Linked DNA regions of Homo sapiens: region 2 is linked to region 1. A link means that fine-mapping ties the variant in region 1 to the expression of a gene that starts in the linked region. Tissue or cell type: skeletal muscle. Region 1 holds a variant in brackets; the other region holds the start of a gene. All regions are shown on one strand. Distances are from middle to middle.

Region 1 (8,102 bases):
TTACCCTCTTGATACTACAAAGCCTCTTGTGGTCCACTGGTACCAGGCACAAGCCCTGTGTGGCCCTGCAGAGTGTGTCCTCCTCTCCTGAGCTGTGAGTACATGTGACTCATAAACTGCTCTGGATCTCTTCTGTCCAGATTCGGGTGTCCTGTGTTCAGCCATTGCCATAATCCTAGGTCAGGAATCCCTCCTGCACTGATGAAGTCAAGAGAGGTGATTAAAACAAGCGTTCCAGTATATCTCACTTGGGTTACATAACTGGGCCTTGTTTTCTTCAGCTTCCAATAGTAATTTCCTGGGCTGGGCGCTGTGGCTCATGCCTGTTATCCCAGCACTGGGAGGCCGAGGCAGGCAGATCATCTGAGGTCAGGAGTTCGAGACCAGCTTGACCAACATGGTGAAACTCCATCTCTACTAAAAATACAAAAAAATTAGCTGGACATGGTGGTGCATGCCTGTAATCTCAGCTACTCAGGAGGCAGAGGCAGGAGAATTGCTTGAACCCGGGAGGTGGAGGTTGCAGTGAGCTGAGATCGCACCACTGCACTCCAGCCTGGGCAACAGAGTGACACTCTCTCAAAAACAAAACAAAACAAAAAATAAAAAAAATAAAAATAAAAAAACTCTATATTGGGCCAGATGTGGTGGCTCATGCCTGTAATCCCAGTGATTTGGGAGGCCGAGGCAGGTGGATCACCTGAGGTCAGAAGTTCGGGACTAGCCTGACCAAAATGGTGAAACCCTGTCTCTACTAAAAATACAAAAAAATTAGCCGGCCATGGTGGCAAATGAGCAGTGAGTCAAGATGTGCCACTGTACTCCAGCCTGGACGACAAGAGTGAAACTCCATCTCAGAAAAAAAAAGAAAAAAGTAATTTCCTCACTGTTCTTTAAGCTTTCACTAACAGTTTTGTCAAGGTCCTTTCTACTCTCTGGTCCCCAAACCAATGCCAGGTGTATTTTTTGTTTCTGTACCACCCTACTTTTACGTGTCACACTGTCTTCCGGTCATTGATCATAACAAACCACCCCAAAATTCAGTAGCTCAAAACAATAGTTGTTCATTGGCTTACAATATTGCTATATATGTGTGTGTATATATATATTTTTTTCTTTTCTTTTCTTTTCTTTCCTTTTCTTTTTTTTTTTTCTCTTTTTTTTGAGACAGAGTTTTGCTCTTGTTGCCCAGGCTGGAGAGTAGTGGCATGATCTCACCTCGCTGCAACCTCTACCTCCCGGGTTCAAGTGATTCTCCTGTCTCAGCCTCCCCAGTAGCTGGGATTACAGGCGCCTGCCACCACTCTCGGCTAATTTTGTATTTTTAGTAGAGACGGGGTTTCTCCATGTTGGTCTCCTGGCTAGGAGACTGGTCTCGAACTCCCAACCTCAGGTGATCCACCCACCTTGGCCTCCCAGAGTGCTGGGATTACAGGCATGAGCCACCGTGCCTGGCCTATATATATTTTTTAATAGAGATGGTGTCTTGCTGTATTGCCCAGGCTAGTCTCTAACTCCTAGGCTCAAGTGATCCTCCCACCTCAGCCTCTCAAAGTGCTGGGATTACAGGCATGAGCCACCGCACCTGGCCACAGTATTGCAATTTTGTGGGCTCAGCAGGGCCATCTCTTAGCTCCATGTGGCATCAGCTGGGATACCTTGACTGGGCTGGAAGGCCCACCTCCAAGATGGCTCATTCTCCTGCCTGGGAGACTGCGGGGTGGCTGGGAGCCACTGTTACCCTCCGTGTGGACCTATCCATGGAGCTGCTTGTGAAATTGCCTGAGGAGTTCGTCTTGTCCGCTGCACAGATAAACCCAATTCACTGAGACAGCATTGTTGCAGTAAAGAAAGTTTAATTGGCCGGGTGCGGTGGCTCACGCCTGTAATCCCAGCACATTGGGAGGCCAAAGTGGGTGGATCATGAGGTCAGCAGTTCAAGACCAGCCTGACCAACATGGTGAAACCCCGTCTCTACTAAAAATACAAAAAAATTAGCTGGGCATGGTGGCAGGTGCCTGTAATCCCAGCTACTCAGCAGGCTAAGGCAGGAGAATCACTGGGTGGTGGAGGTTGCAGTGAGCCGAGATCGTGCCACTGCACTCCAGCCTGGGTGACAGAGAAAGACTCCACCCCCACCCCACCCCCCAAAAAAGATGAGAAAGTTTAATTAATGCAAGGCTGGCCAACTGGAAGGACAGGAGTTTATGATTGCTCTGATCAGCCTCCCCAGGAACTCAGAGGCTAGGCTTTTAATGGATAATTTGGTTTGCAGTTGGGGGGTGGGAGTGAAGGGGGGTGAGGAGGGTGTAGTAGGGAATGGGTGCTGCTGATTGGTTGGGGATGCACTCAGAAGTGGGTGGGAACAATCCTTGTGCTCTGAGTCCACCCCTGGGTGGGGGACACGGACTGGTTGAGTCATGAGTCGTCATAGATCCAGGTGGGGTCAGTAGGTTGTCAGAATGCAAAAGTGTGAAAAACATCTCAAAAAACCAATCTCCGTTTCTACAATAGTGACATTGTCTATAGGAGCCATTGGGGACGTCATGAATCTTGGCCATATGACTCCTGAGCAGTAAGGGATGATGGAAACTAGGTCTACATTTTAGCAGAATTCAGGCCCCTCTGTTATCCGAATCTCATGGACTTTTCTTTAGTTTAGCAAAGGTGGTTTCAGTTTCCAAGCAAGGAAGGAAGCAGTTTTAGGGAGGGACTATTACTGTCTTTGCTTTAAACTATAAACTGGACCTAAAGGCCAGGTGCAGTGGCTCACGCCTGTAATCCCAGCATTTTGGGAGGCTGAGGCGGGTGGATCACTTGAGGTCAGCAGTTTGAGACCAGCCTGGCCAACATGGTGAAGCCCCGTCTCTACTAAAAATACAAAAATTAGCTGGGCGTGGTGGCGCATGCCTGTAATTCCAGCTACTTGGGAGGCTGAGGCAGGAGAATCCTTGAACCCCGGAGGTGGAGTTGCAGTGAGCCGAGATCGCACCACTGCACTCCAGCTTGGGCAGCAGAGCGAGACTCCATCTAAAAAAACCCACAAAACAATGGGCCAGGCATGGTGGCGGGTGGCTGTAGTCTCAGCTACTCCCAGCTACTTGGGAGGCTGAGGCAGGAGAATGGTGTGAACCCAGGAAAGCGGAGCTTGCAGTGAGTTGCGATCACGTCACTGCACTCCAGCCTGGGCGACAGAGTGAGATTCCATCTCAAAAAAAGAAAAACAAGCAAAGAAACAAACAAAAAAAAAACCAAAAAAACCCACAAAACAACAACAAAAAAATTAAACTGGGCACAAAGAGAGGAACAACCGACACCAGGGCCTACTTGAGGGTGGAGGGTGGGAGCAGGGTGAGGATGGAAAAGCTACCCGTCAGGTACTGTGCTTGCCACCTGGCTGATGAAAACATCTGTGTAGGAAACCCCAGCCACATACGATTTACCCACGCAACAAACCTGCACATGCACCCCCTGAACCTAGAATAAATGTTGAAAAAGAAAACAAACAAACTATAAACTAAATTTCTCCCAGGGTTAGTTTGGCCTACGCCCAGGAATGCCTAAGGCCAGCCAGCCCGTGAGGCTGGAAGCAGGATGGAGTCAGCTGCGCTAGACTTATCTGGCCGTCATAATCTTTGCAAAGGTGATGTCAGTCGGGCTTCCTCGCAGCACGGTATTTGGGTTCCGAGAAAGGAAGTGGAAACTTCCTGTTCTCTTAATGGTCAGGCCCCGAGTGGCACATCCTTACTTCTGCCACTGTGCCAGGTCCAGGCTGGACCCAGGGAATTCGATGTAAGTTCCATGTTGTTCTGTGGTGAGCAGGTCTGTGCAAACCTACTCCCAAAGGCCCAGGAAGCTGAGAGATTCAAAGAAAGCCTCAAAGAAAGAGGCTGCCAACTGGGTGCGGTGGCTCACACCTGTAATCCCAGCACTTTGGGAGGCCAAGGCTGGTGGATCACGAGGTCAGGAAATCGAGACCATCCTGGCTAACACAGTGAAACCCCGTCTCTACTAAAAATACAAAAAAATTAGCCAGGCGTGGCGGCGTGCACCTGTAGTCCCAGTTGCTGGGGAGGCTGAGGCAGGAGAATGGCGTGAACCTGGGAGGCGGAGCTTGCAGTGAGCCAAGATTGCGCCACTGCACTCCAGCCTGGGTGACATAGCAAGACTCCGTCTCAAAAAAAAAAAAAAGAAAAGAAAAGAAAAGAAAGAGGCTAACAAATGCATTTTCTCAGAAAGAAACATTTACTAAAGACTTACACACAGAAGCCATGTCTCAGGAGGCCACGAGATTAGATGGATCCCTGTGCCCCTACCCCCAAGACCCAGGGCTTTAAATACCAT[A/G]GAGAAATTGTATACATACTTTAGAAGAAGTTTGTAAGACAATTGAAGTAATTTGACTAAGGGCAGGATAATGTTGTTTTGACCTACGGGCAGGATTTACACTACGTGCACACTCTTTTTTTTAGACAGGTTGTTGGCTGGGTGCGGTGGCTCACACCTGTAGTCCCAGCACTTTGGGCAGCCAAGGCAGGTGGATCACCTGAGGTCAGGAGTTCGAGACCAGCCTGGCCAACATGGCAAAACCCTGTTTCTCCTACAAATACAAAAATTAGACAGTCGTGGTGGCAGGCGCCTGTAATCCCAGCTACTCAGGAGGCTGAGGCAGGAGAATCGCTTGAACCCAGGAGGTGGAGGTTGCAGTGAGCCAAGATCACACCACTGCACTCCAGCCTGGACAACAGAGCTCAACTCCATCTCAAAGGAAAAAAAGACAGGCCCTCGCTCTGTTGCCCAGGCTGGAGGGCAATGATGGGATAATAGATCACTGCAGACTCAAACTCCTGGGCTCAGGCAATCCTCCAGCCTCAGTCTCCTGAACGGTTTGGGACTACAGGCACACGCACCATGCCCAGCTAATTTTTAATTATTATTATTATTTTTTTGTAGAGATGGGGTCTCACTATGTTGCCAGGGCTGGAGGTACGTGTTTTTAACAGTAGATAAAGTAGTCCTGGAACTGAGGGTAATCAGAAGTCAACATGGCAGCTTAGCATCTAAGACGGAGTGGCTTTGGCCTCCAGATACCTCTTGTTAGGACTGGTGTATGTGTGCAGAAAGGGGAAGAATTATTTGAAACCATCTTTGGAGATCAGCTACCACACCCCTGATTACACAAATGAAGAAGCTGAGATTCAGAGATGGGACTGGTGGCTCAGGGGACAGAGGATTCATTGAGCTGTTTCTATGTGCCTGTGCTGTGCTGGGTGCTCCCAGACGCAATCTCTTTTTTTCTTTTGAGACGGAGTCTTGCTCTGTCACCCAGGCTGGAGTGTAGTGGCCTAATCTTGGCTCATTGCAACCTCCACCTCCCGGGTTCAAGCGATTCTCTTGCCTCAGCCTCCCGAGTAGCTGGGATTACAGGCGTGCGTCACCTTGCCCGGCTAATTTTTTTTATTTTTAGTAGAGTCGGGATTTCACCATATTGGCCAGGCTGGTCTTAAATTCCTGTCCTCAGATGATCTGCCCGCCTCGGCCTCCCAAAGTGCTGGAATTACAGGCGTGAGCCACCGCACCTGGCCACCCACATGAAATCATATGAGGTAGAAGCAATTGTGTTTTTTGTTTGTTTGTTTGTTTGTTTTCTGAGATGGAGTCTCACTCTGTTGCCCAGGCTGGAGTGCAGTGGCATGATCTTGGCTCACTGTGACTTCTGCCTCCTGGGTTAGAGTGATTCTCCTGCCTCAGCCTCCTGAGTAGCTGAGATTACAGGCGCACCCCATCATGCCTGGCTAATTTTTGTATTTTTAGTAAAGACGGGGTTTCACCATGTTGGCCAGGCTGGTCTCAAACTCCTGAGCTCAAGTGATCCGCTCACCTCGGCCTCCCAAAGTGCTGGGATTACAGGCATGAGCCAATGTGCCTGGCCAGAAGCAGTTGTTATCCCCATTTTACAGGTGAGGAAACTGAGGCACAAGCAGGTGGGTAACTTGCCTACAGCCACACAGCTGTTGGAAGAGGGCCCAGAGTTAAATCTGAGCAGTCTGACTCTGAGCCAGTAGCAAAGTCCAAAAACCGTTACATTTTTGCCTTGGGAAGTGGATTTGGCATTAACAACAAAGTGGAATTGTGCCCAAGATGCTAGGGAGTTCAAATAAAACAAAATGTGACATTCTTCATGCTGCAGCATAGTGCATTCTGGGAAATCATGGCATACAATGACTTGGATTTTTCCCAGAGGAAACCTCTCTAGCAGACCTGGCTAGTTCCTCCCCAGCACCCACTCCACTGTCATACACCACAATGGGGTTTTCAGGTCAGCACCTGGCTCCCTACCTAGCAACTGTTTTTCCCAGATCCTCTTGCAAGGACGGGCAGTAAGGGCTGGCCAATGGGATAAGAGAAGAAAGAAGTGACATAATGATCTCTGGGTCAAGTCAGCTGGCTCAGTGTGGGTGCAACAGCAGGAGCTGGAGCAGCTGCTTTGGACCATGAGATGAGAGCTGAGTGTTAAGGAACAGAGCAGGGTTGCAGGAGTCTGGGGTGTTTGGATGACTTTGGGGGAGAAGATCAATCTTTGGGCCCTGACTGCCCACCTCTGGTCTCTTACCTCAGAGGGAAATACAGTTCCACCTTCTTTACGCCATTATTTTATTTTATTTTTTATTTTATTTTTTTTTGAGACAGAGTCTCGCTCTCGCCCAGGCTGGAGTGCAGTGGCCTGATCTCGGCTCACTGCAAGCTCCGCCTCCCGGGTTCATGCCATTCTCCTGCCTCAGCCTCCCAAGTAGCTGTGACTACAGGTGCCCGCTACCATGCCTGGCTAATTTTTTTGTATTTTTAGTAGAGACGGGGTTTCACTGTGTTAGCCAGGATGGTCTCAATCTCCTGACCTCGTGATCCGCCTGCCTCCACCTCTCAAAGTGTGGGGATTACAGGCGTGAGCCACCACGCCCGGCCCTTTAGGCCATTATTAATGGAGGGTGTTTGCCTCCCTGTGTGGGTCTCCTGGGTATTCTGTATGGTACTGTGTGGTAACTTACAGATTGTCTTTTTTTTTTTTTTTTGAGACAGTCTCGCTCTCTCCCCCAGGCTGGAGTGCAATGGCGCGATCTTGGCTCACTGCAACCTCCACCTCCTGGGTTCAAGCAATTCTCCTGTCTCAACCTCCTGAGTAGCTGGGACTACAGGCGTGTGCCACCACGCCCAGCTAAACTTTTTTAGTAGAGATGGGGTTTCACCGTGTTAGTCAGGATGGTCTGGATCTCCTCAGCTCATGATCTGCCTGCTTTGGCCTCCCAAAGTGCTGGGATTACAGGCGTGAGCCACCGTGCCCGGCCCAGATTGTCTTAAAGTGGGAGATGTGTGCTTCTCTAGGGATGTGCCAGCTGGACCAGTAAATCTCTATGGTCTATGGTCCCTCACAGTTTGTTTGTTTGTTTGTTTGTTTGTTTCTGTTTTTTTTTGTTGCTGTTGTTGTTGTTGTTGTTTTAGATGGAGTCTTGCTCTAGCTCCCAGGCTGGAGTGCAATGGTGCCATCTTGGCTCACTGCAACCTCCGCCTCCTGGGTTCAAGCAATTCTCCTGTCTCAGCCTCCCGAGTAGCTGGGATTACAGGCGCCTGCAACCACGCCTGGCTAATTTTTGGATTTGTAGGAGAGACAGTTTCACCATGTTGGCCAGGCTGGTCTCGAACTCCTGACCTCAAGTGATCCACCCACCTTGGCCTCCCAAAGTGCTGGGATTACAGGTGTGAGCCACCGAGCCCAGCCCCTCCCAGTCTTGAAATTCAGTGGTTATAGGATAGGACAGGTTTTGGTTAGGCTGAGGAAACCCAAAGTTTCAAGGCTCTGGACTGGATTCGGAGTTTTCCTTTCCTTTCTTTTCTTTTAGACAGAGTCTCACTCTATTGCTCATGCTGGAGTGCAGTTCATCATTGTTCATCACAGCCCTGATCTCCTGGGCTCAGGTGATCCTCCCGCCTCAGCCTCCTGTGTTGCTGGGACTACAGGCTCATGCCACCATGCCAGCTAATATATATAGATTTTTAAATACAGACAGATCTTGCTATGTTGCCCAGGCTGGTCTCAAACTCCTGGGCTC
Region 2 (8,083 bases), 50 kb after region 1:
ACTTGCTGCTCCTCTCTATCTCTCTGTCTCACAGACATACACCCACACACACACCCACGCACGCACAAACACACCCACAAATAAGAGCCAAATGATAAACTGGGGAAAGATCCTTGGCACACAAAGACCAGACAAGGGGTAAAACCTTACTGATGAGCTCAAACCAATCAATAAGCAACACACAAAGAACCTGGCTTCTCGTACTCTGACCCAGGAGTTTCATTTCTAGGAAATACGAAGAAATATCTAGCTGGGTCCAGATACAGCCATTCTAGAAGTTCATACGCACTGATTACCAGGTTAATTCCTTCCCAGGAAAGATGTGGCCATGTATAAATGTATGCAGAAATTCAATGTAACATTATCAAAAAGAGCCAAATATATTTTTAAAAAGTCAAGAGATCCAATAACTCAACATGACATAGCAAAATGCAAGCATTGAAAAATATAAAAAATGTCTGCGATGAGGAATGCTCGTGAAATTATACTAATGGAAAAATATTTTATATAGACAAGATATGCAAATACAGAAAAACGTGTTATTTTATTATTTATTTATTTATTTTTGGAGACGGAGTCTCGCTCTGTTGCTCAGGCTGGAGTGCAGTGGCGCCATCTCGGCTCACTGCACTCTCTGCCTCCCAGGTTCAAATGATTCTCCTGCCTCAGCCTCCTGAGTAGCTGGGATTGCAGGCACGTGCCACCACGCCCAGTTAATTTATTGTATTTTTAGTGGAGATGGGGGGTTTCACCAAGTTGGCCAGGCTGGTCTCGAACTCCTGACTTCAAGTGATCCACCCGCCTCAGCCTCCCAAAGTGCTGGGATTACAGGCGTGAGCCACCTCGCCCGGCTGGAAAAACGTGTTTTTAAAGGTCTGGCAAAAAAAAAGGCAAATGTTAACAATAGTTGTCTTCAAGTATGCAAACAGGAATTGTTTTTCCTACTTCTTTCGGTTAATTCATTCAAACAATATTCAGGAAGCACCTGCTAGGTGCCAGGCCTGGCACTAGGCTCTGGGATCTGGACAAGGGTCCTTCCCTCCAGGAGCTTCCAATCTGGAGGGAAGCATGCGGTGAGCCAATGAAAATGCAGGGTGATCAACAGGAGTTTGTGAGCACGCCTAGCAGGTCCCCAAAGAAGGAGGCAGCTGGGGAGAGTGAGAGGAGGTGCACTTCAGAACTCAGATGGCTGGCTTGGTGGTGGAGGCCGTCCACCTGCCACCACCTTCCGGGACCTGCATCCCCAGCTGAACTGCATCCTTGGAGGTCTGAACCCAGTGGCCCCGTGGCCAGGTGGGCTTGGGAGTTGCTAGCTGGGGCTGATGTGGTAGTTCACAACCTCCTGGTGTTCCACACAAACCACCTGGAGATTCTGCCAATCCTGCTCCACACTGGGGTCCCAGGGCCCATCACACGAACTGGAAATTAATGGACCCATTAACCTAGCAGCTAGAGGGCTTCAATTAGTACAAGGAAACAAAACATATTTTGTAGATGGCTGTCCATTTTGGAGTTTATCCTCTAATACTGAGCTGTCCTAGCAGACAAGAAACGACAGGCACCCAAGGCATTAGAAAAATGTTTGAGAGAAAAACTAATGACAACATTGGGTGTAGTGGTGTGTGCCTGCAGTCTCAGCCACTAGGGAAGCTGGGGTGGGAGGATCGCTTGAGCCTAGCAGTTTGAGACTACAGTGAGCTGCCACAGCATTCCAGCCTGGGTGACAGAGGGAGACCCTAAAAAACAAACAAACAGAAAACTAATGACAGAGAGGATTCCATCTCTCCTCTTCCTTTCTTTTCCTTTCTATTTTGTTTTCCTTTGTATTCCTTTGATTTGGGGACCCTCTTTTGGGGGGTTGCAGCTATGGAAACACAGTGTAGCAGGGTTTCGGGTCCTGGAGAAGGTTTGAGGCTGGAAGAGGGCTGTGGGAAATCTTGAGGGAGGCCTGGCTCCATCCGCACTCTGCTATGGGACCCTGGGCAGGGTGGCTCCCTCATTCTTTGGGAGGAGGTGACAAAGGGGAAGTCTTTGGGCAGCTGGTGGCGGGAACGGGAAGGCCAGACCTGGCCTGAGACCCACCAGGTGCTCGGGGTTATTTGCTGAGTGCAGGGTACGTGACCCCAAGGGGCCTTCGCGGAACAATCACTCGACGTTGGCGGAGGGGAGGAAGCCGCAGAGAGGGTGTCGTGAGGGAAAGGTGGGTGCAGGGGAAATGGCGCTTTAACCCACTCAGGGCCAGAGGCTCAGCCGAGACTATCCAGGTGGGAACTTGTCCCTCCGGATGACAGGTGATGAAACTGAGGGAAGGGGACTCGCCCTGGCAGTGAAACGGGATGGGCGCTGGGACCAGGTGCCCCGGCAGATCCTCTCCCAAGCCCAGTTCCGCTCCCGCTCAGTCCTCAACCTTCCCCAGCTGGAGAGGAGGGAGGGGCGCCTGCGGATCCGAGGCGAGCGCGGAGGCCGGGCGACTCCAACCGGCTCGCCCCGTGCCCAGCTCGTACCCAGGCCGTTTCCCGCACGGGGAGGGCCCTTCCCGCTTCTGGGCAGGTCCAAATCCTCACCCTCCCTAAGGCCGGCGCCGACGCTGCCAGCCCGGCAGAGCCCCCTCCTGCCGGCCGCTCTCCATCCCCGTCCCCGGTCGCATCCGCTCCGGGGCGAGCACCGCCCGACGCCCAGGCTTCCCCCGGACGGAGGAGCGCGACTCACCCACGGTGGCCGGGCAGAGCCTGCCTCGAACCCGGCTTCTCCCCGACGCCCTCTCTCCAGCCCCGGGACCCAACCGGGTGGGGCTGCCCTCGAGGGCTCCGGAGCCAGGCGCGTCCTGCCCGCGAGGGCCGGGGCTCCGGGTCCCGCCGCCGCGCTCCACTTCGGGGCGCAGTTGGGGTGGAGGCGGTGGCCGGGACCGCCGCGCGGGGTTCGTGCGCGCACAAATGTCGCCTCCAGAACAGGTGGCCCGGGCTAGGGCGGCGGCCCAGCCCCTCCGCCCCTGCCCCTGCCTTCCCGAGGCGCCTCCTCCCCACTGCGAGCCGCAGGATCCCCCTGGAGCCCCCGTCCCCCGCAACATCGGCGCGGCCCCTCGTACCTCTAGCTCCAGCGGCGGCGGGCGGCGGACAGCGGGGCCCCGGCGGGCGGGCGGCGCGGCGGCCGGAGGGCAGTGCCTGGGGCCCGGCGGGAGGCAGCACCGCCCCTCCGGCCCGGGGCGGGGTCAGGCCGCCCCGCCCCGCCCGTCCCGACCTACCCTGCGGGTCCCGGTCCCCAGAGCCCTTGCGGGGTCCCCGCGACCCCGCCCGCGCGCCCTCGCTGCTCCCCGGGGCGGGTGCGGACAGTCCCCAGTCCGCCGGCCAACAGGTAGGGAGCGCTCCCCGGCCTCCGCGCCGCCAGTATTACGGGTTACCATCCCGTTTTCCCCATTGAACTGATGAGAAAACTGAGGTTCAGAGGGTTGAGTACCTCGATATTCTGCAGTGGAGAAGGGACGCTGTCACCCCTGGGACCCGGGTCGGCCTGATCCCACCGCCTCCTGCCGGGACCGTGCTAAGGGCATTGCCTGCATCACCCCAGTGTTTGCGGAATTCCAGTTATTTGCTGTATCCTTAACGCCGCCCCGTCCTTTCTCTACTCCTCCTCCTCACTCTCACCTCGCCCCATCTTCACACATATTGCTATTGGTAATTTGTTCAATGTGAGAAATTGGAATGTATCACACACAATTCGTGTATCATAAAACTGTATTTTATTCTCTTTGGAACATGCCATGTTTCCAGCATGTCACAGTCCTGGTGCTTTTAGTTCTTACTCCTCTGGGACAACAAAGACTGCAAAAAATGAAACCATTGGGTGACTTCTTGAGTGCTGACGCCCATCCTCTCACTCAGCTGATGACCCAGTGCCCAAGCCACTGAGAAAATGGAACCTCTATCCTAGCCCTGAGAAAGAGCCTGGCACTCAATGGGTGCCCAATAAATACACTTCGAATGAAGGAATCAGTAGAAAATTCCCACCAGCTCCCCCACCCACCCGCTGAGGTAGCACCCAGTCCCTTCCCTCTTGGGACCGGGCTGAACCCGTCCAGCTCCTGGCCACGACCACCCCCTCCAGAAGATCCCGACCCTTCACGCCAACACTGATCCCGAAACCCTGCCCTCTCTCCATTCTCCCTGGGTCATTCCCATCACAGGCTGTTACTTCTCCCATCTTAAAACGGAAACAAGAGGCCAGGCAAGCACTCACGCCTGTAATCCCAGCACTTTGGGAGGCCAAAGCAAGCAGGTCACCTGAGATCAGAAGTTCAAGACCAGCCTGGCCAACATGGTGAAACTCCATCTCTACAAAATACAAAAATTAGCTGGACATGCTCACTTGAACCCAGGAGGTGGAGGTTGCAGTGAGCCTAGATCATGCCACTGCACTCCAGCCTGGGTGACAAGAGCCAGACTCTGTCTCAAAAAAAAAAAAAAAAAAAAAAAAAAAAAGAATGAATGCGGACCCTTTCTCCACTGGTAATACTCATTTTTTTTTTTTTTTTTTTTTTTTTTTGAGAAGAGACTCACTCTGTTACCTAGGCTGGAGTGCAGTGACACCATCTCGGCTCACTGAAACCTCTGTCTCCTGGTTTCAAGTGATTCTCCTGCCTCAGCCTCCTGAGTAGCTGGGACTACAGGCATGCACAACCATGGCTAATTTTTGTATTTTTAGTAGAGACAGGGTTTCACCATGTTGGCCAGGCTGGTCTTGAACTCCTGACCTCAAGTGATTCACCCGCCTCAGCCTCCCACAGTGTGGTGATTACAGATGTGAGCCACGGCACCTGGCCCACTTGTAATACTTTTAATGCTTTTGCTTTATGTTGGCTTTTCCATGATCACAAATGTATTTTTCAGAGAAACTTTGTATTGCTACCCTAAATGGAACACCAGTATCTCAGAGACTAGAAGGCAACAGTAAAAATAAAACTAAAACAATGTTATAAAGCCCGGGTAGGTCCTGTTGCCCCTCCAAGAGCTGAGTTCCTCCTGCCCTCTCCTTGTTAAAAGGAAGATTCATCCCAGCACTTTGGGAGACCGAGGCGGGCAGATCACAAGGGCAGGAGATCGAGACCATCCTGGCTAACAAGGTGAAACCCCGTCTCTACTAAAAATACAAAAAAATCAGCCAGGCGTGGTGGCGGGCACCTGTAGTCCCAGCTACTCAGGAGGCTGAGGCAGGAGAATGGCGTGAACCCGGGAGGCGGAGCTTGCAGTGAGCCGAGATCGCGCCACTGCACTCCAGCCTGGGCGACAGAGTGAGACTCCGTCTCAAAAAAAGAAAAAAAAGGAAGATTCGAAAGGTGTAGAGAGATATTCAAGGCAGGCCAGCACCCAGCAAAGACTTGCCCCTGGACTTAAGCAAAGGGATTAAAGAGAATTGAGAAGGGAATGGCTTTCTTAGAATAGCCATCGCTGGAGCTGTGCCCAGACCCACAAGCTCTTCCTGGCTATGTCTGGGGAAACGGTCTCCTTGCAGCTTGTTAATCTCACAACCCTCTGAGGTCACCCTGTTATCCCCATTTTACAGATGAAAAAAACGGAGGCTGGGCCAGGCGCAATGGCTCACGCCTGTAATCCCAGCACTTTGGCAGGCCAAGGCGGGCGGATCATGAGGTCAGGAGATCGAGACCATCCTGGCCAACATGGTGAAACCCCGTCTCTACTAAAAATACAAAAATTAGCTGGGCGTGGCGGCGTGCCCCTGTAGTCCCAGCTCCTCGGGAGGCTGAGGCAGGAGAATCACTCGAACCTGGGAGGCAGAGGTTGCAGTGAGCTGAGATCATGCCACTGCACTCCAGTATGGCGACAGAGCGAGACTTCATCTCAAAAACAAACAAACAAAAAAAAACGGAGGCTGTTGGCTGGGTGCAGTGGTTTAAGCCTGTAATCCCAGCACTTGGGTGGCCGAGGCATGCGGATCACCTAAGCTCGGGTGTTCAAGACCAGCCTGGCCAACATGGCAAAATCCCATCTCTACTAAAAATACAAAAATTAGCCAGATGTGGTGGTGCCTGCCTGTCATCCCTGCTACTCAGGAGGCTGAGGCAGAATTGCTCGAACCTGGGAGGCAGAGATTGCAGTGAGCCGAGATCATGCCACTGCACTCCAGCCTAGGTGAGAGCGAGACCCCGTCCCAGAAAAAAGAAAAATACTGAGCCCAAGATGGAAATTAACCTAAGCTCACAGAGGCTGAGGCAGTAGGATCATTTGAACCCAGGAGTTCAAGACCAGCCTGGGCAACATAAAATGATCCTATCTCAAAATAAAGGTAAGAAAGGAAAAAACAAGCAGAGGTTGGAATTCAAATTTGCCTGACCCCCAAAGCCCCAGCAGCCTTTGAGGCCAAATTATTTTCTAGCCTGACCTGTCCCGACTGCAGGGAGAGCTTCAGAGGCCAGGGCGTGAAGGAGGAAGCAGGGGACAAAAGAGCCTATGTGTCTGACCTGCCCTGGCCTCAGTTCACTCATCTGTGAAACTCTGCCCTGGAAGCACAGCCTGGCCCATGTTGCCCTGGGCTCTCCTGACCCCCGGAGCACCCCCTCCGCCTCTGAGCCCAGTGCTCCCCTCTTCCCTCCCTCCTAGCACCCTGGCAGGTCCCTTTCCTCCTAAGGTTGAGCACACAGGCTCTGAGAGGAAGGGAAGGCATGGCTCGTGGCTGGCTTTCTGGTTGGAGATGGAGAGGGCTGGGATGCTTGTGAAAGAAGAGAGTGATCTGCCTGGGGTTGAATCTGCCTCTCTTAGCAGGGTGGGTGTGGGCAGATTTTTTTTTCTTTCTTTTTTTGAGACACTCTTACTCAGGCTGGGATTTATTATTATTATTATTATTATTTAGAGACAGGGTCTCACTCTGTTGCCCAGGATGGAGTGCAGTGATGTGATTCCAACTCACTGCAGCCTTGACCTCCCAGGCACAAGTGATCCTCCTGCCTCAGCCTCCTGGGTAGCTGGGACCACAGGTGTGCACCACAATGCCTGGCTCTTTTTTTTTTTTTTTGAGATGGAGTTTTGCTCTTGTCACCCAGGCTGGAGTGCAATGGCGCAATCTCGGCTCACTGCAACCTCTGCCTCCTGAGTTCAAGTGATTCTCCTGCCTCAGCCTCACGAGTAGCTGGGATTACAGGTGCCCGCCACCACACCTGGCTAATTTTTTTATATTTTTAGTAGAGACAGGGTTTCACCACGTTGGTCAGGCTGGTCTTGATCACCTGACCTCTAATGATCCTCCCGCTTTGGCCTCCCAAAGTGCTGGGATTACAGGTGTGAGCCACCTCGCCCAGCTTCTAGGCTGAATTTCTTTTTTTTTTGAGACGGCGTCTCACTTTGTCGCCCAGGCTGAAGTGCAGTGCAGTGGCGCGATCTCAGCTCACTGCAAGCTCTGCCTCCCGGGTTCACGTCATTTTCCTGCCTCAGCCTCCCAAGTAGCTGGGACTACAGGCACCGGCCACCACGTCCGGCTAATTTTTTTTTTTTTTTTGTATTTTTAGTAGAGACGGGGTTTCGCTGTGTTGGCCAGACTGATCTCGAACTCCTGACCTTGTGATCCGCCCGCCTCGGCCTCTCAAAGTGCTGGGATTACAGGCGTGAGCCACCGCGCCCAGCTAGGCTGAAATTCTTAAACTCTTTGAACCAATGGGTTTCTCTCCCATCAGTAAACTGGAGCTGGTCATCTGGTTGTGAATGTTGAATAGAAAGCCTGTGGCCACTTTGGTCTACCTGCAATAAGGGAAGGATAAAGCACTGGCATAGTTACTGTTGGGGTGAACTCCTACCACTTGCTAAGCCCTTTCCAGGGGCACCCCTTACCCAGGAGGACCCTGGGGCTTAAGGAGCCAGGCACAGCCTTGCCTAAGGGCCCTCAGTTAATAGGTCTCAGTCCATAACTCTTAGTCCTGGCTAAGACAGTAGTGGTCCTGGAAGGTGGTGGGCTCCCTGCAGCCCCACTGGGCCCATGCTCCAAAGCAGATTTCATATCCACATGGGAAAGAACAGTCTGACAATTTGCACGGTTCGTGGTGTGGTGGCTTTCCAGCAATTTATTTCAACAGGCATTTCCT

Evidence for each region. PIP is the estimated chance that this variant, and not a neighbour inherited with it, causes the effect.
Region 2: A4GALT starts here. The variant in region 1 is fine-mapped to the expression of A4GALT in skeletal muscle (GTEx, PIP 0.97).

What each region holds. Positions count from the first base shown.
Region 1 is chr22:42,667,889-42,675,990 of GRCh38, forward strand. No RefSeq gene overlaps it. Among named protein-coding and RNA genes, the nearest start is that of CYB5R3, 23 kb to the left of the region's middle. The variant A/G (reference allele first, on the strand shown) is at 4,345.
Region 2 is chr22:42,717,712-42,725,794 of GRCh38, forward strand. It overlaps A4GALT (alpha 1,4-galactosyltransferase (P1PK blood group)), which reads right to left and starts at 3,159. Exons shown (of 3, transcript NM_017436.7): 1 at 3,086-3,159. RefSeq lists silencers at 2,599-2,728, 2,809-3,038, 3,069-3,258.